Homo sapiens: one gene and its partners. The protein of the gene in region 2 interacts with the protein of the main gene of each other region in a biochemical or structural test. Each region holds a gene or a part of one and is shown on either strand. Other genes may lie near its edges. The genes, in order: RAD23B, PAX3, POU3F2 and SOX10.

Region 1 (7,812 bases), on a different chromosome or scaffold from region 2:
CTGTAAACCCTTCCAGTCACTGCATAGTTTTCCACTGTGTCTGATTCTGACTCCAAAGATCATATAACTACTGCCTCTGAGGTCCTGAGTTGCACTAAGTCACAAAATACAAACAGCTGTAGTGCCAGTGAAGGCTGGTCATAATATAACTCATGCTCTTAGATCAAGGAATTGTGCTGTATGATTTCCAACCAAGAGAACTCTGACTTAAGCATTTGCTTTGGTCATTTTACCTGATCGTCTGGGGAGAAAAACAAAAGTCTTGTCTTAAACTGCTCAATAATCCTAACTGCCTAAGCAGCCACTTAGTTGAGGTGTCTCTGCTGTCAACTTCCCACAAGAAATTATTTCTTGCTCCTCAAATATCTCAACACTCTTTTCCTTTTTTTTCCCCTAAAGATCCACACAGGCAGAAGCCTGAATTTCTCACAAGTTCACAAAGATACAGATACAACAGTGAAAAACTGAAATAGTCCATAGGTTCAGGTTACAAGAGCTAACAAATGTCAGAACCAAACACAATGCTATATAACTACGGGAAAGATTTACTAACATGGAAGGATGCTTATGATATATATGACAATGACCACAAAGAATACAGATCAAGTACAAATGATGATCAGGGTGGCAATGTCATGATGTAATCCTTATTCATTTTGGTTATTTGTATTTCCTAACGTTTCTACTCAAAAAAAAAAAAATGACTTTCACCTGCTTTCTCCTTTCCACTGCCCCCCACCCTGCCCAAATCAACAGAGTACAGAAATCTGATTATGAAAATTTGTACTTATATTCTCCTTAGTAAGCTATCAAAACAGACGCAGCATATGTTTTAGTCAAACATTTAAAAAAAGCTTAACGTAATAGATATAGTCGGTTTGATCAAAACAATAATCAAAATAAATGCATGAAGTTCCTGTTAAACACGGATTTTGAGATAGAATGTCCTAGAATCCAGTTCCTACCTGTCAGTTGCTGTTGGGCTAGTAGCCACTGGTGTCTCTGCTGGCTTTTCTGCAGGCTTCTCTTGTTTAGCTGCACTAGCAGGTGCAGGTTCAGAAGATGCTGTCGCTGATGCTGGAGTGATGGATGCAGGTGTGGAAGTGGGGGCCAAGGCAGGGACAGGGGTTGGAGCCTGAGCCACAGTTGTGGTGGTGGAGGAAGTAACTGCTGTAGTGCTGGCAGGAGCTGACTGCTGAGTTGTAGCTGGTGCTGGTGTGGACACTGCTTTGGGCTAAACACATTAAAAGACAAAATAATTACAATAAAATACTACATACTGCCTGATCTCTAATTAGACTGTACCGTTACAGGATGCCACAAACATAGCACTAATAACAACCTATAACTTGAAAATAATTTTGTAAAATGACACAATAAATGATCAATATTAACAATCTGACTCATGGTTACTCTTTCAAAGCTCATGACAGCGTATGTTAATCTTAACTATCAACCACAATTAATTTTACCCAACAATTTCCATCTTCATATCAAGTTAATATAAAATAAAAAATTTGAAATATATATAGATATATAGATATATATATATATATATATAGATATAAACCGTATCATTTTCCCAAAAAAACTTTATGTACCTAAGTTGTAACTTTAAGGTACCTAATACCACTTAAAAGCATTAATAAAATAATTTTCTTTAATTTTAAAGACAGGGTCTTGCTACCTTGCCCAGGCTGGTCTTGAACTCCGGGCCTGAAGCAATCCTCCCACCACGGGCTCCCAAAGCGCTAGGATTACAGGCATAAACTACTACATCCAGCCCAAAATAATGTTCTTGAAATGGCAGTATAAATGTTTATTTATAAACATGTCAAATATTCTGTTGTACTGTATTTTTAGAAGAGGGAGGAAAATCCCAAAATTGACTACAAATCAACAGATCCAAGTACAAAAAGGTTCACAATACTTTCAGACATATATGTAATTAAGCAGAAAAATAAAGGCCAAATTAAGTTACCTCCACACGCTCAGCACTTTCTGAACTGGAAATAGAGCCATAAAGCTTCCCACAGAGCAAAAAAACAATTAGTTGACCCTTGAACAACAAGGGTTTGAACTGCACTGGGTCCACTTACATGATAATTTTTTTCAATATAAGTTACACTGAGTGTGCCTGCCTCTCCTTCTACCTCCTCCATCTCTGCCACCTTGAGACCGCAATACCAACCCTTTCTCTTTCTCAGCCTATTCAGTGTGAAGACAAGGATGAAGACCTTTATGATGATCCACTTACACTTAATGAACACTAAAAATATTCTCTCTCGTGATTTTCTTTTGTTTCTTTTTGAGAGAGGTTCTCACTCTATCGCCCAGACTGGAGTGCAGTGGTATGATCACAGCTCACTGCAGCCTCAACCTCCCAAGGCTCCTGCCTCAGCCACTGCCCCCGCCCCCAACACCAGGTAGCTGGGACTACGGGCTCACACTACCACTCCCTGCTAAATTTTTGTATTTTTTTTTTTTGTAGAGACAAGGTTTCGCCATGTTACCCAGACAGGTCTCCAACACCTGAGCTCAAGCGATCCGCCCACCTTGGCCTCCCAAGGCGATGGGATTACAGGCATCAGCCACCACACCTGGCCATGATTTTCTTAATAGTTTCTCTAGCTTACTTTAATACAGTATATCATACATGTAACATATAAAACATGTATTAATCCACTGTTTACGTTATCAGTAAGGCTTCTGGTCAAGAGTAGGCTATTAGTAGGTAAGTTTTGGGCAAGTCAAAAGGTATATGCAGATTTCTGACTGTAGGGGAGAGGCCAGCACTCCTAAGCTCAGTGGTGTTCAAGGGTCAACTGTACATGTGTAAAAATCATACATGATTTTTAGTCTTCTCCTAAGGCCTCTCAATGCTCGCTACCTGTTTAGTTCATAACTTTCCCAAGGACAAAAGGTAGCTGTTTTAGTGGAAGACAAGGCTTAAATTCAACATAATTTGCCACAGGCATAAACAAACTCTAAAACCAATGAGCTGCCTTGTCTTTTTGATTTGAACTAATAAAGAAGACACTAGGAAAAAGGTTAGTGAAAGGTGATAGGTTTTTAAAAAATACTAGTAGCATTACTCCCTTCTTTTCCTATTTAGCTTAACTTTCTTAACAGCCAATATAATATTCTGCAGATTATTACTGTTCTAAAACTAAAATGAGCTGAAATCCTGAGATCATTCTGGATCTTCAGTTATTCTGGATAAACTGGAGCTTCACAAAGGTGAAAATTTAGAGTCTTAAGCACCAAAACTTTATAATAACCAATCTAGATAAAAATGTATTTTTAAAAGTGGTATACTCATTTAATATTTTCCTTAATTGTTATCAAAATAATATTGCAATGTAACTTCCCTTCAAGGTTCCTACTGCCAAGAACAGCTACTTATACTTTATTCTAAACAGTACCAAGCCCTTCTCTGCTTTTTAGTTTTTATTCTTGCTTTTGATCTTAATAGCTTTTTCCTTTCCCTTCTTTGTATTAATAAGGTCATTTCTCAGTGCTTCCATAATGCCTTACTGTAGCAGCATTCCCTCCCTTTTCATAGTTGTCCTCTATTAACTTCAAATAAAACAATCATAAATATCATTAGAATCCTATGTAATATTAGGAATAAAAGACTTTAAGGAAAAACAAAAGGACTGTATGCAATATAATGATAGGCTTCAAGTATCTATTCCTCAAACACACGCACCTATTGAGACTTTTTCTGCTTAATTCTTGTGTTCTAAACAGTCAGGATCACTGTAATATTAAAAGAAACTAAGACCAGTAACAAAACATATTTAAATGTGTGGCTATCACATTTCCCATTATGTACTATGTATGCTAAAACTAGATAGGAAAATAGGATAGTATTCAGTCTTAAAAGTTCAGCAAATTCTGGCACAAGCTATAACATAGACAGATGAACCTCAATGACATTATGCTAAGTGAAATAAGCCAGTCACAAAAAGACAAATACCATAGGATTCCACTTATATGATGGTGATAGCTGCAAAACAATGTAACTATAATGTTATTGAACTGTACACTTAAAATGATTAAACTGGAAGTTTGTTATATTTTACCACAGTTGAATAAAAAAACCTAGATGATACAAGGTTTCCTCACGATTCTGCTTGTTTTTAAACTTAACATATAATGACTTAAGTTCTTAAGTATAGCAAAATCAACATGGTTCTTAATGAATTAAAAAATGTTCAACACTTGTAAACTATTTAGCTGCTTGCTCCCAGTACAAAAGCATGTGGTAATTAGAATTTATTTCTTCGACTCTATTTTCTATTACTATTAACTATTTTGTGACTTTGAGAAAAAACCCACATTTAATCCACTTTTGGCCTTTGATGAAGTGGTTTCAATTAGTGATTTAAACTCATTTTCAGTGCTACAAGTAACACTGTTCTTTCTCAGATTATGACAATCCAATCCTAAAAATGAATGTCATGAGTACCACTTCTCCATTTGTCTCTTAATTCTACACTGCATTATATATCTTTAAATAAACAAGTATATAAATAGTCTCTTAAAAAAATCCATGTTCATTCTCTGCTTTAAAAAAAATTTAATTTTATAAATTGTTCCAAATACATTCCAGCCTACTAAATCACAAAAAAGTATCTGTTTAAAACTTCCAGGCTGGGCGCGGTGGCTCACGCCTGTAATCCCAGCACTTTGGGAGGCCGAGGCGGGCGGATCACGAGGTCAGGAAATCGAGACCATCCTGGCTAACACGGTGAAACCCTGTCTCTACTAAAAATACAAAAAAATTAGCCGGGCGTGGTGGCATGCGCCTGTAGTCCCAGCTACTAGGGAGGCTGAGGCAGGAGAATGGCATGAACCCGGGAGACAGAGCTTGTAGTGAGCCAAGACAGCGTCACTGCGCTCCAGCCTGGGCAACAGAGCGAGACTCCGTCTCAAAAAAAAAAAAACAAAACAAAAACAAAAAAAACTTCCTCATAAAAATCATTCCATCATTTCTTTAGTTATCTTTTCCCTTTTTTTAGTTTCTAAAAACATATTCTTTCACTAAGAACTATCACTGTAATAATAAGCTTTCATGCCTTTTCTGTCTTGAGGAATCTGTTAGGACTAGTACGTAATTTAGCAGGTCTATTTAAGGCAAGCTTACAAAAACTACAGAATAAACATTTATTCCACTTATAAAGACATTTTAAAAGAATTATATAATGATTTCACTACTGTAGCAAAAATAATTTTAACATGACATTTTATTTTTCAATTGTTTTAATTTACATAAAATTTTATTAAAACTATATTATAGTTTAATGTGTAATTAATGTAAAACATTAATAACTTTATGTTTCACTTAAGGTAAATTCTTAAAAACCTTTCATAGTAGTTAAGTGTACACCACTATGGATGTGTATAAACTGTGTCCATTGTGTGGACTTGTGATCATCATTTTTAAAAAGACCTACATGCATAAAGATATACAGAATGAGGTTGAAACTTACTTTGGTCACCATAACCACCACAAAGTTTTTCTCATCAATTTTATATTCTTTGAGAGCAGTATCATCATTGAGGATTTTGCCTAATACATTAAGAGAAAAAAAAATCATTTAAGGCATAATCTTTCTCTTACACTTCAGTTAAAACAACTTTCTACTCGAAATATGAATATTTCAGAAATATTAAAATATGAATCACCAACATAAATTCTATCAGTTAATACTTTTCCCAAAGAAAAACCAATCAATCAAGATAAAAATAAAACAACTCCTAAGTGGCAGGGCATGGTGGCTCACACCTGTAATCCCAACACTTTGGTAGGCTGAGGAGGAAATATAGCTTGAGGCCAGGAGTTTGAAACCAGCATGGCCAACATAGCAAGACCCTGTTTATGAAAAAAAAAAATTCAAAATTAGCCAGGCATTGTGGCACATGCCTATGGTCCTAGCTACTTGGGAGGCTGAGGCAGGAGGATCACCTGAGCTCAGGAGTTCAAGGATACAGCGAGTATAATCACACCACTGCACTCCAGCTTGGGTGACAGAGCAAGACCCTCTCTCAAACAAATAAAACTAAAAAGCATAAGCATTTGACTAAAAGATGTCAAACTTATATAGTGTATATAGAATGACAATCAATTTTTACAAATGTATTGATTATATAAAAGACTTACTGGGCAAGGAAATATGAAAGAGGCCCTGAAAAGGAGGAGATCATGAAGATAAAGAAAATTCAATACTCCGATTGCACAGGGGTCCTCTGGAAAATAACCTATATTCTTTTATGATATGAAGAAAGGGAGAGAAACAAATTTCCTGCTCCCCAAAATACTGATATCTGATAAATCAGAAATGTTCTAACACTATCAAAGCAAGATACTAAAAGTACTTCAGAAAACGACATGATACACAAGAAAGGGCAAGATGCTACAGAACTTAGAAATGCACGAAGTACACAAAACTGTGGTCGTGCTGAAGGTCACTATTAGGTAGCTAGGACTCTCTAGTGTTTCTTGCTACATGAATTTAGTTTTCCACCTTTAAAAAGCTATTGAATCAAAAGCTGCTAACATTAAGTCAGAAAGGAATATGGATAGGAATGAGAAAACAGGCCAAAACAAGAAACTGGAAATTTGAATTTTATGTCCGCTTCTTTAGGCTTCTGAATTCTGACCTATAAAAATAATGGGACTGAATCACCAGGTTAGCATTTCCTCCAGGCTGTCTCACTTTAGGAAACACTATTCAGAAAAAGAGAAGAATCCATGGGTGATCAAACACCCACCTTACTAACATCTACAATGAAAGCATTTTCTCTAAAAATTTGGATATCAAATGTATTTTTAATATACATTTTCCTGGTTATTAGTGAGGCTAGTCAAATGTATAATTCCTACTCTTATCCTTTGTTGCTTTATTGGTCATCCTTTCCTTACTGATTTCTAAGAATTCTTTACATAATCTGAATATTAATTTTTTTTCTTCCTGTAGGTGTCTGTGTGATGTGTTTTTTCTGTACTCTTCAGTTAGTTTTGGTTAAAATAATTTTACAGGAATGATTCCAAGCATACTAATAATAACACAATCAGTATAAATGGTTTCAATTCAATTTAAAAAAAAAAGCTCCGTTTGATTAAAAAAACAAAAGCCAGTTACACGATGCTTACAAAAGATAAAACAAAACTAATACCATTTGATGGAAAAATACACAGGGCAAATGTGAATAAAGAGAAGATTGAATATTAATATTAGATTCAAATGACTGCTCTTTCACTGCTTTTATTTGTACAATCATTTTTCTGACAATTTGAATATACTACAATATATAAGATAACATTTCTAAAACTAAAAGAATATCAAGACATGGCATGTTAATTTTAATATTTAATTCATACCTGCATAAATTAATTTTTGACCTGCTACTGGAAAGGCATCTTTCCCCTTTTCAGATTCAATCTTCTCTTTCAGTGCTTTCACCTATAGGAAAAATAAAGATTTGTTTTGGAAAAAGTCTAAATAAAAAATGACAATCCAGAATCTGAATAAATAATGGAAGACAAAAATTATATACATAATTATTAATGTTTCCAAAACCTCAAATATTATGTTTTTCCAATTTATATCAAAAAAGATTCAACATTAACTCATATTACTAGTTATGATAGCCATAAACTTTAACACCATCTGATACACACAGATTTTTAAAAATTTACTAGTTGAACTGATAATTTAAAATAAAGTTTTCAACATCAAAGTTTTGGTTTATATACTGTTCATGGGTTTATTTCCCACGGAGCAAGAAAGTAAAGCTTGATCA
Region 2 (6,424 bases):
TGAGATTGTACTAGGTTCAAATCCTAGCTCTGCCACTGAGTGATTCATGTAAGTTCCTTGAGCCTCAGTTTTCTCATCTGTACAAAAGGAATGGTAGTGACATCACTTGCTGCATGTGACATGTGGAGAGTAATAAATAAGTTAATACAAGTAAGAGCTTCAAAAGGTATTATGATTATTCCTTCTAAAATAACAGTCCTCACACTTTATTGAAACTATGCATTTACTTCTCTGCCTTCTCTACTAGGCTACAAGCACCGCTATAACACAAGTGCCAATCACCATGCCTGGCACATTTGGACTCTCATTAAATACATTCAGGAAGAAGGGAAGGAGGGAGGGAGAGGAGAAAGGATCAGGAGAGGGAGGGAAGGAGAAGGAAGAAAGGAAGAATGAATGAAGTACGCAGTAATACCTTTCATGAAGAATAAAGTAGGCTGCTAAAATAAAATAAATAAAATATGAGAGTTTTAAATAAAAATTTCCGTGGAGATGACTTAGAGATGAAGATGGAACCGGGTACTCCAGGGAAAACATATCTCTAAGTGACAGTAAAGGGACTGGATAACTCTGAGAGAACCAAAGAAAGATGAAGGAAGCTAAACTGAAGGGTTTTTCTAGATGCTACACTGATAAAAACATAAACTTCAATCCTTAAAAGTGTGTTCAACCAAGCTTCTTCAAGAGAATACAACTGTGGGTTGTGTAACCTTATTTGTCGACAGAATACTCTCATAGAAAGGGTCCACCAGAAGTGAAGTTCATGTACATTGGGCTCCCCATTGCCAAGTTTTCATTTATACTACATTCACCAGTTCCCCCAAAAAAGCAGTAGTGGGCAAGTTTTCATAACTGTTTATTCATTATAAATAGTAAATATTTACTGCACTTTTTACATGAAAGACATTTTTACAACACATTGTTGTTGGTTGAGGCTGCAACACAAAGATAGTACTTCTCTTGTTCCATCACCCTCTAAGACCAATGCATGAACTAAATTCGGTACTATGTCTAGTCTCACTAACTCGCTACGTCATAGTTCTTAACTCTAAAAGGAATGTATTTGTGCCTACCTCATTCGTGGTTCCAAGAATAGAAAGAAATAAATAACACTGCCTTCCACCTTCTTGTTCCTCTCAACATCTCAAAAAGCAAATTTATTGACATTCTAAAATGTCACCACACAAACGTATGTAAACCTCAGTTCCTATAATCTTTTAATATTGGATATCATTGTATAATTTAAAAGTACATGAGAGCCATGTGAACACTTCTGTTCTTGCCCTGCCTTTCATAGAAAAGAGAAGAATGTAAACGTAATCAGTTTAAAAGCATAATTATCTGATCTGGTCTCTAATCAAAGGAGCAACCCGGGTGTTGGTTGTCCAGCAAATGGCAAACATCACTGCACTCTATCACTATGAATTATGGGCTGTGAAAATAAAAGCACCTGCAAAAATATACTTCTGATTTTGCTTATATCGCCTTGGGCATTGCCAAAGCATCCATGAGGTACACAGTATTGCACACTGATAAGCAGATATGTGAATGCATGTCACTTTCTCTCCACCGTGCCCTTCCTCCAACCCAGGTGGGCTACCAAATAAATGTGAACTGGAAAAACGTCACACACCTCTCCCCACACAGGAAAGGGAAACAAGTCCTTCTTCCTGGTAGCCCATATCCTGTTAGCAAGACATGTCCGGGCCATTTATTGACAACTAGATTACAAATGAGGATACAGTAACAAATAATTTATTTAGGAGGTCCTTTACAGCTAGTCTAGCTTCCTAAAAATGGTTGCATTTATCTTTATTTCAATTTCCAGTGTGTAAGAGTCAAGGATTCCTCCATTCTTGCTTCATGAAATGAGCAGTTTTAAAGTTGTAGAAGTATCAGCATCGAACATCGACATGTTATACTTTAGGGTATTCTATTATATTTTAGAACAGTCTGCTTGCCCAAACCAGTCTGGGTAAATCTCAATACACACACACACACACACACGCACGCACGCACACAAGCAAATGGAATGTTCTAGCTCCTCGATGATCAGCACTAAAGAATTGGGATGTTTTGATATGTAACCATGTGAAACCATTGCCTTAAAATGTTGCATTTGTCTTTTATTGCTCCAGGTCTTCCTCTTCTCCACTGCTTTTGTCGAACGTGTTCAAAAGGATTTGAAACCAACTATTGGAGGAAGAAAATCAATCACTCTCCTTTGTCTCCTATTGGGACCACTGCCCCACCCCCCCCAACAAAAGGGTAATTTTTTTTTGTTTTCAGAGCAGATTCTTCATATCTAGGCTGCGAAGACCAGAAACAGGGCCAGTTTTAGCTCCAAGTGGACAGTTCACTTACGCGATATCTGGCTTGAGATAATGAAAGGCACCTGTAAGGAAACACACGCAGCTTTTTAGGTCATGCTGGGACAATTCACAGTCAGGGGCAAGATCAGCTACAGGCTGACAATGTCATATTTAATACCGTGCTATCAAAGGCTTGAGACTAATATTTTTATTCCTGAGACAAGTTTGACACAACTTTGTGTCCCTGGGATTATCCCCCATATGATCCTGGAGCTGACCTCATTAAGAACATGTGTTTCTAATGTCAGGGATTATTTCATTTTGGCCAACCCTTGTGTTTTACCTAGTGGCAATCAGGTTTCACGTCTCAACAATTAATAACCGCAAGATGTTGTTGACATCAGTTAAGAAAATAATTACACAAGGAAGCCCCTGCTGGAACAGTCAGCTGGCTTTGCAAAAAAAAAAAAAAATTGATACCGGCATGTGTGGCTTAATCTTGCCTCTAATTCACCTTTCTTAAGGAAGAGTTGAGTTTATCTCCCTTCCAGGAGAAATTGCCCCCTAAAAAGTCCAAGGCTTACTTTGTCCATACTGCCCATATTGGTAGCCTGTGACAGGGTCCATACTGTAGCCTGTGGTGCTATAGGTGGGTGGACAGTAGGACTGAGATGTTGGCAGACTGTCCAAGCTCTTCATATGGTCTAGTCTCTGACTGCAGCTGGCCGACACCGTGGTGGTAGGTTCCAGACCCCCGGTGAGAGGGGAGAGCGCGTAATCAGTCTGGGGCTGATGAGGTACCCCACCGTGGTTGGTCAGGAGTCCCATTACCTAAAAAAACAGCCAGATTGGGAAGAGGTTAAAATGCAGAGAGATCCAGATTGCAGCCTACAGCTGAAAGAATAACTTGACAGTCCAGTTTTTATTTCTTTGGAAATTGGTTAAAGAGCTGTCCAGGAGACTATGAACCCAATTCTAAGTGGCAGAGATATTACATCATGCCCGACGATAACATCTGACTGCAGTTGCAGAAGAAGGAAAGGGGGAGGGAGAAGAGGGGAGAAGAGGGGGAAGAGGAAAAGAAGGAAGGAGAAGAGGAAAGAGAGAGATTACACCACGTCCCTAGTGATAAAATCAGACTGGAATTTCAAAGAAGGGGGAAAAAAGGATGAAAAGAGGGAGAAATTGTATCTGTTCATACAGAAAAATGTCTATTCATACATTATATCTGGAAGTTTCACATGTGATTTTTAAACAGTCATTTGCTTATATTTTTAAAAGATAAATGAATCCAAATCAAGTTATTTTTCATGTACTTTGAGATCTCTGTGCCTTTTTTTTTTTAAATAGTGTTCCCTCTCAAGAAAGCCCCTTTCCTTATCTTGGCCATTCTTTGATAATTAGAAATATTTACTCCTTTCCTGATGGTCTCTGGTACTTTATTTACCCCTCCCACTGTATATTCATTAGTTCAGTCACCTGCTTTGACTGGTGAGAGCTTTGAGAGGAGCAATCTATTCATCTTTATATCCCAGCACCTAAAGCAGTGAATGCTTGACACATATTAAGTGCCGAATGAATGAAATGTAAATGATTCTCCAAGTAAAAGCCTCCATTACCTATTATTTTATTTCTTCTCTAAACAACCATTTCATATATATATATATATATATATATATATATATATATATATATATGAAGTGTTAAAAGGAAAGACAAGCCTGAAATGCAAACATGGTCTTAAAAAGTTCAGTTTGTAAATAACCTGGACAGTAAGACAACTTGGAAAAAAAAAAATATCCTGTGACAGAATAACTTTCAGATCAACATGGTGAAGTGCTTCACCAACTCAAGATCCCTGACCCTTACAGCACCTTGTGGTGAAAGTAAGTGGATAATTAATTTTGCAGCTGGAAAACTGCCACACGAGAGAGGAAGCGATTTTTCTAAACTATGTACCCTTCTGTGGCAGGGTTCAAAAGCAATTGCAAAAGAAATCTAACGCCAGGTCAAGAGCCCCCCCGAAGACACATCTACTTACAAAGTATTTAAATGCAGTATCCAACAATTCCACAACATTTCCATAACAGTCCTGTCTTATTTTAGGAAGTGTGAAGCCTACAGAGATTAAAGTGTGCAAATAAGAGAAAGAGGAGAGGGCAGAAATGACAACCAAGCCCTGACTATAAGCCCTCATGCTAACTGCAGAATAACTCTCATAATTCAGGCAATAGAACCTCGGATCTAGGAGTTCCAGTAAGGCAGGAATCTGAGAGGCAGGTGAGGCGGGGGGCGGGTCTAGTTTTGCTTCCCAGAAAGCATCTCAACTCAGATTCCAAAAACAAGGATCCCATAATTCCCTTTGGGAAGGGTTTGCATAATCCTTATGATTAAGTAAAATCTTCTTGAACTAAAGCTCTGAGCTGATCCATCTTCAGCTGACCCCAAAAGACAGAGAAAAAGAGATCCACCTTCTGTGGATTATCAATTATCCACTCTTCCTCCATTTTAACAGAAAATTTGAACGGATGTCCCTGCCTTCCCCAGAAATCCTGTTTTTCATTTTGTTGTCTCTCTTTCATTTGAGTTATTGTCTATGCACACACATGGGAAGGTGGGCTGGTGTGGGCAAAGCAACACAGCAAAGCCCACATTTTGAAAGACATCCCAGGAATCTAAGATTTTTTGAGATATGTGGTAAAACATCCTTTTTTACAATTTTTAAAAATTAGTTATATTTTTAAAAAAAACACACAAAACATCATTTGTGGCAGAGCCCAATTTTGTTTTATTGGGGATTTGGAGAAAGTGAAAGTCACAAAATAAAGTAAGCATCAATAGGATTGACAATTCCAGGAAGATGGAAAATCACTAGAATGTGGGTTCTTTTAGGGCCCTACCCAGCATTGTTTATAGCAATTTCTTCATTTCACTACTTAAAAGAACTTGAACATAACTAAGAATGCATTTAAATTAGTTCCTGGATATGTTTTCCATCTATATGGGTTCTTTTTGCCTTTATTTGAGCTTATATAGATGATTTCTATATAAGTGTATACTTGGAAAATTCATGAACTTCAATTGATACACTAGTTTATTATTTATGAAATTTCAGCCCAAATTAGACATTTCTTTTAGAAGAAAAGAGTCTTTAAGTTAGAGGTTGTTTGGTGCCAAACACACTCCTTTCAAATCAGGAGTACATTTTCGTGTGTGATCCTGATGGGTGAGATTGGACATGAACATAAAAACACTTTAAAATGTGATTTTTTTAATAAAAGGGAATAATCGCACAGGGCAAATATTTTACCATGAATAAGTTGTGTTAAGCAAAATTCGAAATCTTAGAAAAAGCAATTTTGTAACTATATCAGTCCAGAGAGGAAAGATATCCAGTGGCACTAAATAAAAGGAAAATAAACTCTAAATTAATATTGTCCTTCATGAAGATACTTACTTGAAATTCAGTCAATGGTATGTCACTTTAAGGGAGAAATGGAATGCTGTATGTACAGTTATACTTGATGAGCTCAGAGCAGAATTTTATTCAAAACATGCACACTTTCCCATGAGCTATATGTACATTTTTGTGATAAACTTTTTAAAAAAATCCCCTGCCATACATTTTTTGTTTGCATAACTTTGAAGGCAGCAATAACTAATTATAGGGGATGGGGGAACTCAAGAAGGACCTAGAAGAGAAGAAACATGTCCTTCCTATAAGCAAAAATCAGCTTATGATGTTGTTCATGAAGCAACTTTTGGCAGTCGCTGCGTTAGAAAATTCATTAGGAAAGGATTTAACTCTTAAGACCTTGAAGTATATCTATTGAAGGGTGGAGAAGATACCCTGTTTGCAGAGCCGTATTAGGGCAATAGAAAGATAGTTCCTCAAAGGTTCCAGGGCTGAGTAGCTTTAAGACTTCCCAAAACATGACCAAATAGGAAGGACACCTGCAGGGTCTTCCTGTGTGTCACTATTGTCACACACAGAAAGCTAGTGAGGGCATCTCCTTTAGCCACAGCACTCAGCACAGCAGCCCAATACTTGCAGGGGCTGATGTGAGAGCATAGAGGGGACCAGAGACCAGTTATCTTTTGTTCCTCTGACT
Region 3 (8,701 bases), on a different chromosome or scaffold from region 2:
CTTGATAAACAAATGAGCTAGTGAAGACAAAACCTGTCTACTGCGTGGAGATCGTCAGTGTATGCTGTGGGTATCTGTGTGCTAAAAAACACAGTCTTATGCATACACTATTAAGTTCCTGGGTCTTTTTTTATGTAAAAAAAAAGCTATTAGAGAAACAAAGTTTAACTGCTGCTGTCAGCACAAATAATTCTTCATAATTGTTACTAAAACTGAAGGTAGAGAACTATATAGGGATATCTGAAGATATGTACTTCCCTAGTTCTCTTCAAAGTGCCACTTTCTTTCTGCTGGACAACTCTGGAAATATATTTAACCTCCACATTTCCCCTGAGCTCTTTCACAATGGGCCCGCCTGATAAAATGAAGCAATCAGTCACTCACTATCGATTTTTCTTTTTTCTTCCCTCCATAACCTCCCCCAGAAACACTGCCTGAAAATGAAGTTTACTTTGTGGCTGGTAAGAACAACCAATGCTTATTTTTATATTCCAAACCGGATTCTTGCCTTCGATAAAGCGGGTAGACCATGCACATTTCCTGAAATCAGAGAATTGTCTATTTTGTATGAAGCCAATCCTTTTGCTTTGGTAAGAGGAACAAATAGATGTTACACCCTCGTAAGGGGAATGTGAAGGTAACCAAAGTTCACAAACAGTACGAAGAAGGGGCAACACAAGAACATTAGAAATGGAGAGTGGCCAAGAGCTGGCTTCAACTCTCTCCGATGAATAAAGCAAAGCAAAACAAAATCCCCCAAAACGGCAACTCCCAAATTAACGGTGGGGAGAAAGAGAAAATATGCTCATGAATTTGTTCACGTAAACTTCAATTTTCTTGCAGTGCAAATTTATGTGGTTAAATTTTGCCTATATGAAAGAACATGTGTATTTTTTCCTCTTTCCTGATGGGAATCCACAATAAATAAACACAGCAGCATGTGCCAACTCTAAGCATCAGGAAGCTGCATTTTGTGTTTATCATGGTTTGGTGGATTTTTTTTCCTTTTTGGTAATTTATTTAGTTTTGCCAGGTATTTATCTCAGTGCTTGCCATCTCTCTGTCTCTCTCTCTTTCTAGCTATCACACACTCTCCTCACTCTCTCCAGGAGACACTCCACTCCATTGCCTGGTTACTCGCCTGCAAAGGTCAAAACACATCATTACACCTGCTACCTTTAAAGGATAGTCCAGTGTCTTAGTTGCTTTCCTTTTGCCTTATTTTTTTTGTCTTTTTAAGGGACGGGGAAATAATAATTAAAAATAAAAGAACAATCAGAAGTTAGAGAGGGAACAAGAGGGCCGGGAAAGGGCCAAGGACCGAAGGGGAGGGGGAGCCCCGCGCTCTGCCCCTCCCCCAGCTCGAGTTCACTGGACGGGCGTCTGCACCCCGTGGTGTGGTGGAGTGTCCCTACTCCCCCCGTACACATCCTCGGCGCCCGGCAGAGTCCCTCCGGGAGGGGTCATCCTTTTCTCTTTCTGTCTCCTGTTACAAAACCAAACTCTCACCACCTCCTTCTCCAGCTGTAAGCTGTCCGCGAGGGAGGTGATCTCCTGGGCCGAGGGCTTGGGGCATTTGAGGAAATGGCTCTCCAGAGCCCCCTTGACGCTCACCTCGATGGAGGTCCGCTTTTTCCGCTTGCGCCCTTGCGCTGCGATCTTGTCTATGCTCGTGGGGCTGCCCGAGGACGAGTCCGCCTCCTCCAACCACTTGTTCAACAAAGGCTTCAGCTTGCACATGTTCTTGAAGCTCAGCTGCAGGGCCTCAAACCTGCAGATGGTGGTCTGCGAGAACACGTTGCCATACAGGGTGCCCAGAGCCAGCCCCACGTCCGCTTGGGTAAATCCCAGTTTGATCCGCCGCTGCTTGAACTGCTTGGCGAACTGCTCCAGGTCGTCCGAGGTCGGCGTGTCCTCGTCCGAGTGCGGGTCGTGGTGCGCGCCTGGGTGGCCAGGCGGACCCTGCGGGGGCGGCGGGGGCGGCGGCTGCTGGTGTGGGTGCGAGTGCGGGTGCGGGTGGTGGTCGGCATGGTGTGGCTCGTCGTGCGCGTCCCGCAGGCCGTGGTGGTGCAGACCGGCCGGCTGCCCGCCGGCGCCCAGCATGCCGTTCACCGTGAAGCTGGGCTGCGAGTAGAGCAAGCCGCCGTTGGACGCTCCCATGGAGGGTGGGAGGTGCGCTGCAGCCGCCGCGCTCCGCCATGCCCCGGGTCCCGGGTGGTGGTTAGCGGCGTGGTGCACCAGATGCGGCGGCCGCTGTTGCTGCTGCTGCTGCTGCTGTTGCTGCTGTTGCTGCTGCTGTTGCTGTTGCTGCTGCTGATGCTGCTGCTGCAGGGCGCCTGGCCCGTGCAGCTCGTCTCCGCGGCCGCCCTGCTGCACCACCACCGAGGGCTTGATGTCCGGCTGGCCCAGGGGGCTGGTGGACCACGGGGAGCCGTCGCCGCCGCCCCCGCCGCCGCCCCCGCCCCCCCCGCCGCCGCCACCGCCCCCGCCGCCGCCGCCGTGGGACAGCGCGGTGATCCACTGGTGAGCGTGGCTGAGCGGGTGTCCGTTGCTCTGCAGAGCGCCGTAGTCGCCCTGCACCAGGCTCTGCGCTTCGCGGTAGCCCCCCGCGCCCTGCTGCATGCCGCCGGGCGGCTCGGCGTGCACGATGGAGGCGCTGGAGGTGAGCAGGCTGTAGTGGTTAGACGCTGCGGTCGCCATGACTCTCGGAGCCGGACTGAGCGCTCCGGTTAAAGGAGCCGCGCATTTGACAGTTACTTTTTCGCCTCGGGCTCCCTCTCCTCGCTCGCTCTTTCTGTCTCCTCTCTCTCCCACAGCGGGCAGCTCCGACGCCCGCTCCGACGCCTTCTGTTGCTGCTCCTGCTATTACTGCTGCTGCTGCCGCCGCCGCCGCCTCCCGCCCGCCCTCGCTCTCTTTCTCCTCCTCTCCCTCCTTCTCGCTCTCGCTCACTCTCTGACTAGCTCGGCGCTCCCCCCTCTCCCTGCTCTCTCCAGCTCTCTCCCGCTCTCTTGGCAGCGCCGGCTCGCAGCGGCACGCGCCTGGGCCCCGCCCCCTCCGCCCCCTCCCATTGGCTCCGCGCCCTTTGATTTACGTGGATACCGCTAGCAACCTCCCAGGCCGGCGCCACTGATTGGCGCAGAGCTACTCCCTCCCCCTCCCCCGGGCTCGGAGTCCTCCTAGCCCTCCTCCCCGTCCCCTTCGCCTCCCGATTCAGATTCTCTCAGTTCTCACCCCCCCGCTTCTTCCTCACCCGGGGCCTCCTCCGCCCTCTCTCGGATGGGCCCCGCCCCCCATCTGTCTCCCAGGCAGAGAAGACCGGCAGGGGGGCGGTCCCGGTGCTCTTATCGGCCACAGACACTTGGAAGACTTGGATTGGGGTGGGGGGCGGGAGGCAGTGGTGTCCACTTTCGTTTCCCAATAGGGCTTTAAGATGGGGAAACGGAGGGGGTAAGGGAAAAGCTGGGTCGCACCGAGCCAGCGGGAGTCGGATTTTTATTCACCTAGGGACACACACACAGTGTGTATCTCTTAAACCTAGAGCCAAGAGCCAGACCTGTTCCCCTGTTCAACTCTCCTTGCATCCCACGGTTAGAATTTCAGTGCACAAGTGTCTCTTGCTCCAGGGTGTGCGGACACTTCGGCCCAAAGCTCTTCTCCTTCCCCTCTACCCCGCGGCTAGCACAGGCTCTCTTCCTTTTAGGTTCCAGGCCCAATTGTCTCCCACTCCCTTGGGGAAAGAACCCCGAGAGAGGCAGGCTCAGCCCGCACCGCGGCTTGTAAGTCATTCCCATCAAGGCTCGGAGTTGCTTGCTCTGACAGCGTAGCGGTCTGAACTGAAAACCAAACAAAACTCTAAAAGTCTCTCCGTCAGATTCACACGCCGGCGCGTGCAGTTTTTGGTTTAGAAAACTAGAAGCCTGCGTGGGCTCCGTCTTGTGCGAGGCTGCCGGAGTGCTGGCGAGGGGTGTGCGGCCTTGTAGGGGCGGCGCAGTCGCCAAAGGCCGCTCCGGGAAGCCGCGCGGAGGGCCTGCGTGCGCGATTCCCCGTGCTCCTACCGCTGGTAGGTGCAACTTTTCCGTTAGCCCCTTGGGAAGGAGGAAGAGTGTGTGAAGCAAATGGGCTGATGCCAGGGGAACCTTCCTAATCAGTAACTTCGGTGGGCGCTAGCGGGTGGGGTTAGTCTATGTCTTTGGCGCTCCCTGGCCAAGCTCCCAGCTCAGCTTTCAGCAGTGAACTCCAGAGCAAGACTATGGGACCATGCACCCGCAGCGCCGCTCTACGGAGCGCGGGCGCGTCGCGCCATCAGTTCTTTAGCCGCCCAGAGCAGGTGCCGCCTGCGAGTTTCCGAGCCTGCAAGCCCGGTAGCTAGAACTTGGGCGCGGACCCAGGCTGGAGCGGCGTGACCGCCACGCAGGGCCGGGTGTGTACATGGGCGCTGTAAAGCGAATCAACAGTTACTGCCGGGAAGGGAATGACAGACCCCAGGGAACCTGGATCGCGTCCCCACCTCTCACCCCTCGCTCTATCGCTGGTTTTGCCGGCGGTCGTAGGCTTGAGAGGGCAGCCAAATCAACGCTCAGAGGGAGCATTTTGGGGCCTCTGAGCATCTGAATCCAGACAGCAGACTGGAGCGGGCCAGAAAATTCATCATGACTAACAAGGAGTCATGCTCTTTGGAGAGTGGCTGAGCTGTTTATAAATCACCACGTTGAGCACCCGCCCGGGCAAGACGCTTTGGCTGAGAATTTCCACGTGTCCTGTGTTTATGAGCGTGTGTGGGGGAGAGAAATGGATAGGGGAGGGGCGAGCCCACAGGCCGCCAGCAGGACGGACCTGCACCCCCACCACGCGCGCACCCGCGCGGCGAGGCGAGGCGAGGACACACACAGCGTGTCGCTCCGTCCCAGCGCAAGCGCGGGGCCACTCTGGCCGCGCGCCTGGGGGCTGCTAGGAATCCCATAACTTTGTCTAGCTAGGAAAAAATGAACAAGTCCGAGCCTCAGCGCGCAGACTCAGCGACTGGTGCCCGCGGCTCCGCAACCGCGAGCCAAGGGGCTGGGTGGCGGGCAGAACCGCCTTCTCCCGGCTTCGGCCCTGCGTCCCCTGTGCTAGGCGCGTGACTTTCCCTGGGCCTTGGGGAGCGCACAGACAGCCCGCCAGCCGCATCTTCTCCTGACATGTCGTGCCTTTCTTTTCGCGGACCTGGAGCTCAGAGCTCCCACGGACAGAAGAATCCAGCCCTGGGGAAGGGCCGCGTCCAAGTGCTAAGCAGCTCATACTTCTCCCCCACCTTTCTGGGGCAGGTGTCTGCTTTTCTCTGGATTTAATTTCACATTTCTCGAGGCACAAGGCCTTCTGCAGCCCATAGGATGATACACTCGAAAGAAGAATGAAGTTTTCAAACACATCTTCGAAGGAACTGAGGCGGCCTGGCTCTGAATCAATTTAAAAGTTCCTCCTCCTCTTATCTTTCTCTCCACACCCCACCCCACACCCCCGCCCTCCTCCCGGCATAGGGCGCTAGTGTGAGGGGACAAGAATAGGCTGCACGTGTACATCAAAACTTCCTGTCTGCGATAGGACATCACCGGCGATTAATGCTGAGATCCTTCCCACGTTGACTTCCCAGGTCTCAACTCCAACTTCCATCCCCGTCTCATTTCGCTGGCGGCCAAGGAGCCGAAACGTTCCCAACAGGGTTTAATATACCCAATAAATCCCCGGGAGTACACAAAGAAATAGCCTACCCGGGGCCTCAGTCTCTGCACCCCACCCCCACCCCCAAGCGCGGCCAATCACCGGGCGGGCCAGGCTGGGCTCGCACCGCGGCTCTGAGCAACACCTCCCCACGAGCTACCGCCGCCTCCCCTCCAGGCGCCAGGGGCCCGGTTGGCGCGAACGCCGGGTTCCGAGCACCCTGGGCTTCCTTGTCTGCCTCCCAGCGCGGCACCTCTTCGGGGCTCCCGAAACCTGAGCTCTCGCTGGTTTTAGGTCCAGACTGGGGCCTCTCCACCGGTTCCTCCCCCGCCCCGGGCTCTGGGGCCCATTCTTTGGGCTGACCCTGTCAGGGCAGAGTCCGCGCGTCTGCCTGCCATTCTCCGCCCGCATAAAAGCACGTTGAAGGTGTCTCGGGCAGACACCTCCAGGTTTTGAATCAGTTTATTCCCTTTCACTGTTCAAAGCAGCTGTTCAAATACACAGGCTGCTTACGTTGACGTGGAGAGGATTTCAAACAACGCTAAAATGCTTTGAACTGACAAGGTGTCTTGATATCTCCCTCACTCCATCCAGCACAGCTCCTCGAGATCACTCGCTAGGACAATGGCTGAGCAGGCGATTCGTGCGGGCCTCGCCACCTCGGGGCGCGGACTGCGGGGTGTCCTAAGCCCCTTCCGCAAGGACAGGATGGAGGCACCTGTAAGGAGATGCTGGCGCCACCCCAGCTTCTCCCAGGTCCGGAGGAACCTCTACTCAGTCAATACCCTGAGCTGGACTTGTCTGAAGAAACGGAGCCGACTCCCTCTTGCCGGGGTGCGCTGAGTGGAGGGGAAACATCCTCGAATAACAGAACTACACCAAAAAGACACCCATGTTATCTCTCACACTTTCACACTCCTCGAGATAGTGAGCCGGACCTGGGTCTTAGTAGCACCCAGTACCTTGACACAAACCTCCCAAATTTCCACCTGAGTAACAGTTATGGGGTCAGTCCATGCACTGTAACTTGAACTCTAATTTATTAACTATTTCATCTAGTAAACACACTCACACCATATATAAAATAGCATTTATTTATTTCTATATACCAGGAGTTGGCAGAAAACCCACCGTGACCACTCCCATACATTGAGCTGGAGGCACACAATTACTAAAACAGAGGTGAAATGGTATTCATTTGATCTTAATTTTTTCTTATTTATGTAGTCCCAGGATAATAGAAATCAGGAAACAAAAGAAAACAAAGAATTTTCTGAGGAGATGGCCATTGGGGGAGTGGAGGTAGCAGCTGGTTTAAACCTAAGTAAAACTAGAAAAAGAAACTGCTGTTTCCTTTTTCTTATATCCACCTTAGAGGATCATGTTTGAACGTCCCTACTCCTCCTCCTCTTTTTAAAAAGCCTTGTCTCAGTCATTCATTCCTGTGCTTCCTGCTCTTCTGCTAGACCCCAGCAGCTGTTTGATTTGGTGAGGCCCCCCTCCAACCTCTGAGTGGAACTTCTTTTCTAAGGGCCTGCAGAATGTCAAAACTGAGGCTCTGGCTTCGGAGCTAGAGCTTTGAACAGCCAATCCACACAAAAAGGCAGCTGGCTGCTTTAATGAAAACTGCTATAAAGCTTCAAGAACTTTAGCCTTGGGGGATGCATTTATAAGGAACATGGAAAATGCATTTCCAAGTTGCTGGTTCTTGGGAGAGACATAATAAACATTTACCAAAAAAAAAAAAAAAAAAAAAAGGATAGAACTTACTATCTTTAATTATGCAGCAGCATATTTTTTCCTGAAGAAATAAAGCTTCCAATAAATTTGTATGTTACTGTCTATACCTATATTTTGCAAATTCCTAAATGTGCATCTGTCCTTGTGTAATAAAAGGTCTTGAAGAATGAAAAGTTTTCTGAAAGTTGAAACTCTCCTACGTCATATGCTTGGCAACTCTGTCCATACCTCACATACAAACAATTCTATTTTACCTTCACTACTGTGTAAACCAGTGAAATATAATGTCCTTAATTCAGTATTTGAAATAAAATTATCTGTATTTATAGATACTAATATCTTTCCCTTTTTCTTCAAGTTATAAATTTTATCATTAAAACAGTCCCCCCTTTGTAGTCTGCAAGTGAATATTTTATATACAGGGATGGCTTGAAGACATCTAACACCATGTCACCCAGATAGTCTAGCTGTTTCAAGGATTACTTTGAGTAATTTATCAAAGGAAGCCTGCTAAATCCTGAGCGGTGAATATGAGGCCTTAGGAGGGAGAAAACATAAAGGAAGCATTCCGTCGGTGTATAAGATAAATTCTGTTTGGAGGAGTTAATATAGCTTGTTTATACGAAATCTCAGAAACAGAACAAAAATCTCAGAAACAGAACAGGAGACAATTGGTGGCTTCCAGTTTGCTTCCCGCAATTTCACTTTCAAAGGACTAACAGTTAAATGACCTCTTAACAATGGAGCCTAAAGGTGTCTGTGTGTGTGTGTGCGCGCGCGTGTGTGTGCGCGCACACGCACACACAGGCACGCTCGCATTTTCTCCCCCTAGCCTTAAAGCAGGTGGATGGCTGGCCACCAGTAGGGGATGACAACTCTTTGATAAATTAAAGTGATTTCAACAGAAACCTCCTTAGCTCTAAAGCATTTGGAAATGTACTGGGATGAAGCTCTTGCTAGAGCTCCTGGCTTCTCTCATCCTCTGGAGCAATTTTCGAAGAGGAAGGCAAGCTAGGGACGAGTGCACTAACATACACCTGCGCACAGAGGCGGACTGGGGAAGTGGGAGGAGGGTGTACTCAGCTATTTCACTGAAGCCATTTTCAAGGGCTAGGGCTGTTGCTCCAGCCCTGGGATAAACAGGCGTATTTGGTTGAAGTTGGACTTCAGTTCTCTTATTCTGCCTGCACACAGCACGAATGCAAATCCTTCTGAAGTGTACAAGTGCACTTAACAATTGTGTCGTTAGTGTCCGGGAGGACG
Region 4 (7,812 bases), on a different chromosome or scaffold from region 2:
AGTAGCTGGAATTACAAGCGCCCACCACAATGCCCAGCTAATTTGTGTATTTTTAGTAGAGACGGGGTTTCACCATGTTGGCCAGGGTTGTCTTGAACTCCTGACCTCAGGTGATCCACCTGCCTCGGCCTCCCAAAGTGCTGGGATTACCATCATGAGCCACTGCGCCCCACAGCATTTGTTTAAATACTGGTGTCTTAGATTGATCTCTAGTTGTTTATGAAATTCTCAAATCTTAGGGATGGGTCCTGGGGAGGCCTGCCTCATTCTGAAAAAACCTTTCCTGTGGAAAGTTCTTCCTCTCATCAGCTTCTCTGCTGTCCAGGTGGTCTGGCCCAGCCTTTGCGCTCTGCCAGCCCCGCTTCCACACCCATGCCTACTGTCTTCCTTGCTGAGCCTCGCTCGCCCAGGCTCCTGAGTGCTCTGTTTCACCTTTGCTGGTTGCCTGGGCCTGCTCCCTGTCCTGGCCTCATGTTGTGTCCTTTCCAACCCTTCCCTCCTCCTGAGCCCACCCTGCTTCCCAGCCCACTGGCAAGCCCTTAGCCCCGTCATACGCTGGCCTGTGTTGCCCTGTTGTTCTTTGAGCTGCCTTCCTCCATGGGAGGGCACTTAGAAAACTGGTCCTTGTTCCTTTGTCTGTTCACTTTCCTATTCACATATTAATTTAGCAAACTCTTAGGGAGCATTACAAAATGCCAGGTACTGTGCCAGGTGCTGGGGATACTAATGTAAATAAAATGGATCCCTGTTCCCAAAAGCTCATAGTCTAGTCATAGATCCATAGATCCACATGCACCCAGAGTTGGAAGTGCTGTGGTGACAATATGCAAGGACTTGGGAGACCAGAGGAGGAGTCCACCCGCTGCCTCAGGGATTTGGGGAAGGTTTGATCAGGGAAGGATGTCTGAGTGGGGTGGGGCCTTGAAGGGTGAGAAAAAGTCTGTGTCCAGTTTCATTCTGAGGTGGTTGCTCTGTATGTGGTCCAGGGTCTCCTGATGTGTGTGTGTGTGTCCCTGAATCTTTGAAGGTGAAGAGTATGTACACGTGTGTGGGAGGGATGACTGCCTGGCATCCCAATGGAGACAGAACATGTCCATGGTCTTAAGAGACTAGGAGCTCCCCAAGGACAGGCCTGTGCCTCCTTCATCAGACCAGAGGCAGCGCCAAGTCCTGCATTGGCCAAGGGCTCTGTACTTCAAGAGACCTGCCTAGGCTTTTGAATCCTGGTTCTGTGTCTGGACAAATCCCCAGTCTTCTCTTAACTAGTTTCCTTATCAGTAAAATAGAGATTGTACCAAGCAGCCCAGGCATTGCCTCTTTCTGGAAGCCTTCCTTGACAAGAGTCTGGTGGGCAGTGGGGTGTTCTTGGAGACCTGACTGGATGGGATAGACGGCCATGCCACCTCTGGATCTCACACAGACTTCTTGTGCACTTGTTTCTCTCTCTATATATATACTATATATATAGTAAGAGATAGGAGGCTGGGCGTGCTGGGTCATGCCTGTAATCCCAGCACTTTGGGAGGCTGAGGTCAGGAATTCGAGACCAGCCTGGCCAACACGGTGAAAAACCATCTCTACTAAAAATACAATAATTAGCTGGGTGTGGTGGCGTGCATCTGTAATCCCAGCTACTTAGGAGGCTGAGGCACAAGAATCGCTTAAACCCAGGAGGCAGACGTTGCAGTGAACCAAGATGGCACCGCTGCACTGCAGCCTGGGCAACAGAGCAAGACTCCATCTCAAACAAAAACAAAAACAAAAAAAAGACAGAGTCTTACTACATTGCCCATGCTGGTCTCAAACTCATGGGCTCAGGTGATCCTCCCACCTCAGCCTCCTGTGTAGCTGGGACTGCGGGCGCATTCCACCATGCCTAGCTTTGTTTCTTCCTGTACTTAATTCACTCGTTTTCATCCCTGCTCCTCTCTCTAGACTATGGGCCCCTGAGGCCAGGGACTGTAGGCTTCTCTGGTTAGTACCCCTGGTGTCCACTCCAGTGTTTGACACAAAGTAGGACTCAGAGCGTGTCCTCTGAAGGCAGAGCTCTGCTCACTGAGCACTTCCCATGTGGCAGACCTGTGTGTGTCACTTTCTGTACATTAGGAACACAGGCAAGGCAGCTGTGGTGCCAAGCAGATGCCCGGGAGCCAAACTGGGGAAGTTCCTGTTTGTTTCTCATCAGTAAAATGAGAGTAACTTGCCACAGCTGAGATCTGAGCCCAGGCAGTTTGGGTACCTCATCACATTGTTTGCAAGGATTGAGTTAGTATACATAAGGCAACTAGCACCTAGCACAGTGCCTGGAACAGAGTAGCTGCTCAATTAAGGTTAGCTGTTATTATCATTAATGAAAATTAAACAAGATAGCTTATGTCTGGCCCATCCATGGCCAGACACGGTATCACATGCCATGTCTCCTCTGTCAGAATGGCTGGTGGGATTTGGGAGGCCGAGGCGGGCAGATTGCCTGAGCTCAGGAGTTTGAGACTGGGCCTGGGCAATATAGTGAAACCCTGTCTCTGCTAAAATACACAAAATGAGCCAGACGTGGCGGTGTGCACCTGTAGTCCCAGCTACTTGGGAGGCTGAGACAGGAGAATTGCTTGAACCCGGGAGGAAAAGGTTGCAGTGCACCGAGATCATGCCACTGCAGTCTAGCCTGGGCGACAGAGTGAGACTCTGTCTCCAGAAAAAAAAAAAAAAGAATGGCTGGTGGGAAAGAGGCAGTGATTTCCTCTCCTCCATTTGCTCTTCCATTTCTCAAAACCATCCTGTCTTCTCCCCCTTTACTTGTAACTGCCCCAGCCACCTCTCACTCCATGACCTCCACAGAGTCTTTTTTTTTTTCTTTCTCTTTGAGACAGAGTCTCGCTCTGTCGCCCAGGCTGGAGTGCAGTGGCGCGATCCCGGCTCACTGCAAGCTCCGCCTCCTGGGTTCACGCCATCCTCCTGCCTCAGCCTCCTGAGTAGCTGGGACTACAGGTGCTCGCCACCACGCCCAGCTAATTTTTTTTATTTTTAGTAGAGATGGGATTTCACCATGTTAGCCAGGATGGTCTCGATCTCCTGACCTCGTGATCTGCCCTCCTCGGCCTCCCAAAGTGCTGGGATTACAGGTGTGAGCCACCACACCCGGCGGCCTCCACAGTCTTTAACTGGCCCTCTTTGCCCAGTAGGATCAGCCCTGGCCAGAGCCATCTCACCCAGCCACTTCCCCTGGCACCGGAACCCCCATGGAGCTCCCTCTGGGCCCCTGCAGCTCTGCTGGGGCAACTGCACAGCCTGGCACGCTCTCCCTAGAGTCCAGGGTCTCATTGCCATCCAGCCATCTCCTGTCTCCACTGACTGGCCTTGCCCCACCCTCAGCTCTGTCATCAGCACTCACCTGAGGGGTGCTCGGGGTTCCCATCTGACATGGGGGAGCCCTCTCCTGGGTGCCGGTGGTCCAAGTGGGCGCTCTTGTAGTGGGCCTGGATGGCGGCGGTCCCACCTTGCTCGGCCTCCCCACCGGGGCACTCCGCCTCGCCCTGGGCGGCCTTCCCGTTCTTCCGCCGCCTGGGCTGGTACTTGTAGTCCGGGTGGTCTTTCTTGTGCTGCATACGGAGCCGCTCAGCCTCCTCGATGAAGGGGCGCTTGTCACTTTCGTTCAGCAGCCTGGGGTGTGGTGGGAGGCGGAGAGGACAGCAGAGGGGCTGGCGTGAATGCCAGAGCACTCCAGGTTGGCCTCCCTCTGAGTGTCCATCTTGGAAGATGTGAGGCCCTGGGATGGGGCACCCAGAGGACAGGACCCGGGGTGGGGGCTGTGCCCTATGATTTGTGGACTGAGAGATGTGAGGCCCAAGGAATAACAGCCTCAGAGGGCTGCCCCCAAATCTTTCATGGGCTGGAGGGTGAGAGAGGGGTCAGCCCGCTGCTCCTGGCAGCCCCTGAGGAGGAGTTAGAAGTAGGAGTAGAGGTTTCAAGGGGCAGATGCCAGTTCAAGGAAAGGAAAAACTTTCTCATCATCAAAGCTGTCTGCAAGTGGAATTGGCTACTTCAGTGGGGGTGAGCTCCCTGGGACTGAGGGTGGGCAATAGAAGCAGCATGGCTGGGGGAGAACTCAGTCTCTGCTACTTACTAGCTGTGTGTGTGACCTTGAGCAAATTACTTCTCTGAGCCTGAGTTTCTTCACCTATAAAAGGATGATAACATTGGCTTAACTTGGGTGTGGGATTGGCCAGAATAATGGATGTGAGATGCCTTGCACCAGGGCCTGGGAAGCGGGCTGAGCACCTTGAGGAAGAGGTGCTTTTCTTTCTTTCTTTTTTTTTTCTGTGAGGGAATCTCACTCTGTCACCCATGCTAGAGCTCAGTGGTATGATCTCAGCTCACTGCAACCTCTGCCTCCCAGGTTCAAGTGATTCTTGTGCCTCAGCCTCCCAAGTAGCTGGGATTACAAGCATGCGCCACCACGCCCGGTTAATTTTTGTATTTTTAGTAGAGATGGGGTTTCACCATGTTGACCAGGCTGGTCTCCAACTCCTGACCTTAGTTGATCCGCCTGCCTTGGCCTTCCAAAGTGCTGGGATTACAGGCATGAGCCATTGTGCCCAGCCCAAGAGGTACTTTTCTATTTTTAATTTTTTATTTATTTAGAGACAGAGTCTCACTCTGTCGCCCAGGCTGGAGTGCCGTGATGCGGTCTCAGCTCACTGCAATCTCGGCTTCCTGAGTTCAAGCGATTCTCCTGCCTCAGCCTCCCGGGTAGCTGGGACTACAGGCACGCACCACCATGCCTGGCTAATTTTTGTATTTTTAGTAGAGACGAGGTTTCACCATATTGGCCAGGCTGGTCTCCAACTCCTGACCTCAGGTGATCCACCCGCCTTGGCCTCCCAAAGTGCTGAGATTATAGGCATGAGCCACCGTGCCCGGCCCCAAGAGGTGCTTTTCTAATGCTGCTTGCGGGGGTGGTTGGACAGGAGGATCTAGGGTTGGACTCTTAACTCTGGGTCCTGATTGTGTGAATTCCAGTGTGGTGGGACTGAGGGGGCAGATGTGGCTCCTCTTTACCATGGGTCTGGGTGGGGGGTACTGCCTCCTGTGGGGGATCCTATATCCTTGTCCAGAAAATAGCAGAGAGTAGAGGAAGCTAGCCTCTCCTCAGACCCTGGAACAGTCCCTGAAACCAACACATGGAGAGAAGAAGCCCTGAAGCCAGCGCCCTTGCCACCGACTCCAGCCTTAGGCCAGGGTTGGAGGGTGGAGGGCATTTAGGGTTTGGCTGCCCCAGGGTGAGGAGGGCAGGATGGGGTACCTTACAGAGGGGGTCGAGGGGAAAGTCCAGATTCTAGAATCCCAGACCTTGGTACTGAGAATCCATGAGTCTTTGTGGGAGCAGCCTTGTCTGTCAGTCCAGAGGGCTTGTCTCTTCAGCTGCCCCACCCCTCACACCCCAGTGAGTGCCCTCTTCCCCCAGTCAGCAGAAGGCCGAGCCCTCCCTCCCCAGGCTGGGCGGGGGTGGTCATGCCAGGCACCTCCTAGCCGGCAGCAGCATTCCTCTGCGGCTTAGCCTCCCTGTCTACTCCCCCCACCCCGGCCCTGAGCCCAGCCCTAGCCCCAGCTTTCTCAGAGGGTCCCTCCAGCCGAGACTCTGTCAGAGTCAGTGTACACACTTAGGACAAAGATGCCGGAGCAGGGCCTTGAGAGTCAGGGAGTGGGATGTGGGCACCCTCTCTGACGGCTGGGACCAGGGGAGGGGGTGGAGCAGGCCTTGAGGGTGTGACTGGGGAGAACCCACAGAGGAGAGAGCTGCTCCGCCAGCAGTGGACCCCAACAGAGGGGCTTCTGGGATGGCTGGGGACATGGGACACAGAGCTCACTCTTTCACCTATCCTTCCCTTGCCCCCTGCCCAGCTGGCAGCCAGCATCAGCAAGAAAGTGACAGGGGCCAGAAGAGAGAGAGGATTCCAACATCGGATTCCGCTGCTACCTCCTAAGCTAGTTCCCAGCATTAGCCTAACCCTGACAGAAATCTAAGCCTGGGGCCACTGCCATCCCCGACCCCAGCTCCCTCCTCCACCAGCTGTGCCGGACAGCTGATTCCACCTCCACCCCAACCCCAAGCCCAGCCTGCCCACCATGTAAACCCAATCTCCAGCACCAGTCCCCACTCAACATTACCAGCCCCAAACCCCCAACTTCGCCTCCAGCTCTAACTCCAAACCCAGTCCTCATCTGCACCTTCCTGTCAGCCCTCTTTCTCCCTGGTCTCCCAGGTTTGGAATGGGGGCAAGAAGAGGTAGGCTGATTCCTCACCCAAACTGGAAACCCCAACCGGGGACCTCCCACAGTGGGGCACTGATTGCTGCTACCTGTGTCCTGCTAGGCCAGGGGCATAAGAAGACTACTTGGGGAAGGGGCCTGTGGCACTGGGAACAGAGGCTGGGTGACCCCCACCACACAGGAGGGACTCTTGCCTGTGTCCGCCTTTCCAGTTTCTTGGCTCTGGTTCTTTCCAGGCAGATCAGCCAACCCACAGGCACCACCCTGTGATCAGCCTCAACTAGCCCCTCCCCAGATGGGCATCAAAGGTTAGAATGACTGTTGGGGCTGACACGGCCCCTTAGGACCTGGGCTCCAGTGTGTCTGATCCCACACTCCCTTGGGGCACTCCACACAGTCTGTGTGTATCTTTCTCTTTTTGGTTTTAAGACACCTGTTTTCCAGCTCTGCCTACCTAACCACCCCACTTCTTGACATCCCAGGAGTCACAGCTTGGGGAGGTTTCAGGAGAAGCCCCTGGAGCAATTGGCCAGCCCAGCCCAAATCCAAATGTCTCTCAGGACCCCCCTCCAGGGTCCAGGGAGCCACCCTCTGTTGGCATTGCCTTTGATCCTTGCCATGGTTCTGGCCCCATCCTCCCATTGGGATTGGGTCCTCAGCAAGTAGTGCCAGTTTTCCTGACTGCCACACCTCAGGCTGGCCCCTGTGCACACAGCTTGAGTGATGGCCAAGAATAAGTCCTCCTGAAGGGAGTCCAAGCCCAGGGTTCTGGGCTGGGGGAACCTGGGGACAGGGACAATGGAGGAGCCAATCTTAAACCCTTGGCAATGGGAGATGGAGGGAAAATGAGGTCCGTCCTTGCTTTGACTCTCGTTGGGCTCGTACTGTGGTCTTCTCATGGTCCCCAGAGTCTGCCCTATCTGTATGTCTCTCCTGGTTGTCTGTTTCTCACTTGCTCTTTGTCCCCTGGCACTAAAGATACTGGCCTGGGCCAAGCCCCACCCAGATCTGGATGGACCTTGGGTGGAGGAGCTAGCTGTGACCTCTGCTCTTGGGCAGAACTGGGCTGTCTGGGTCCACACAGCGGGCTGGTCGCTGAGCCCTGGGCCTGCCCTGGGTGAGCAGGGCACTGAGGGCTGAGAAGGGGCAGGGGAAGGGGCACCAGGTCTTCAGCAAACACATGGCAAGAACAGGCCAGGGGGCGGGATGTGAATCTTTTGGTCTCTTGGAGATCCTCCTGCACCTTCTACCACTCTAAGCCTCTAGACCCAATCTCTACCCAACTGTGGCTGGCAAGGGGGAGGGCAGCGGAAGAGAGCCGGGCTCCTCTGACAAAGCCCTAATTTTCTGGAACCCAGATGCTCCTCACTCTTGTTCTCATCTTCTTGCTTCCCCCCAACCTCCTGACCACTCCTCAAAGTGTAGGTGATCCACCACTGTCACCAGGGTCAGGGGAAGTCCTCTGGACAGAGAGTATGGGAGTCCTGGGTTCTGGCCCTGGCTCTGCTACCAACTTCTATGTGACCTTTGTGATTCCTTTGCCTT

Evidence for each region.
Region 1: the proteins of PAX3 (region 2) and RAD23B form a complex in vitro, tested with the Homo sapiens proteins (one study listed by BioGRID).
Region 3: the proteins of PAX3 (region 2) and POU3F2 form a complex in vitro, tested with the Homo sapiens proteins (one study listed by IntAct).
Region 4: the proteins of PAX3 (region 2) and SOX10 form a complex in vitro, tested with the Homo sapiens proteins (2 studies listed by BioGRID and IntAct).

What each region holds. Positions count from the first base shown.
Region 1 is NC_000009.12:107,299,801-107,307,612, reverse strand, and holds part of RAD23B (UV excision repair protein RAD23 homolog B), read right to left. Parts: intron 7,473-7,812; coding exon 7,391-7,472; intron 5,579-7,390; coding exon 5,499-5,578; intron 1,235-5,498; coding exon 966-1,234; intron 1-965. UniProt on the Homo sapiens protein: Multiubiquitin chain receptor involved in modulation of proteasomal degradation. Binds to polyubiquitin chains.
Region 2 is NC_000002.12:222,199,048-222,205,471, forward strand, and holds the end of PAX3 (paired box protein Pax-3), read right to left. Parts: intron 3,144-6,424; coding exon 2,897-3,143; coding exon of another isoform or gene 2,877-2,896; exon of another isoform or gene 2,666-2,876; intron 2,396-2,665; coding exon 2,361-2,395; coding exon of another isoform or gene 2,357-2,360; 3' UTR 2,194-2,356; coding exon of another isoform or gene 2,127-2,193; 3' UTR 840-2,126; downstream 1-839. UniProt on the Homo sapiens protein: Transcription factor that may regulate cell proliferation, migration and apoptosis. Involved in neural development and myogenesis. Transcriptional activator of MITF, acting synergistically with SOX10.
Region 3 is NC_000006.12:98,828,873-98,837,573, reverse strand, and holds the start of POU3F2 (POU domain, class 3, transcription factor 2), read right to left. Parts: upstream 3,001-8,701; 5' UTR 2,701-3,000; coding exon 1,369-2,700; 3' UTR 1-1,368.
Region 4 is NC_000022.11:37,974,479-37,982,290, forward strand, and holds part of SOX10 (transcription factor SOX-10), read right to left. Parts: intron 3,658-7,812; coding exon 3,389-3,657; intron 1-3,388. UniProt on the Homo sapiens protein: Transcription factor that plays a central role in developing and mature glia.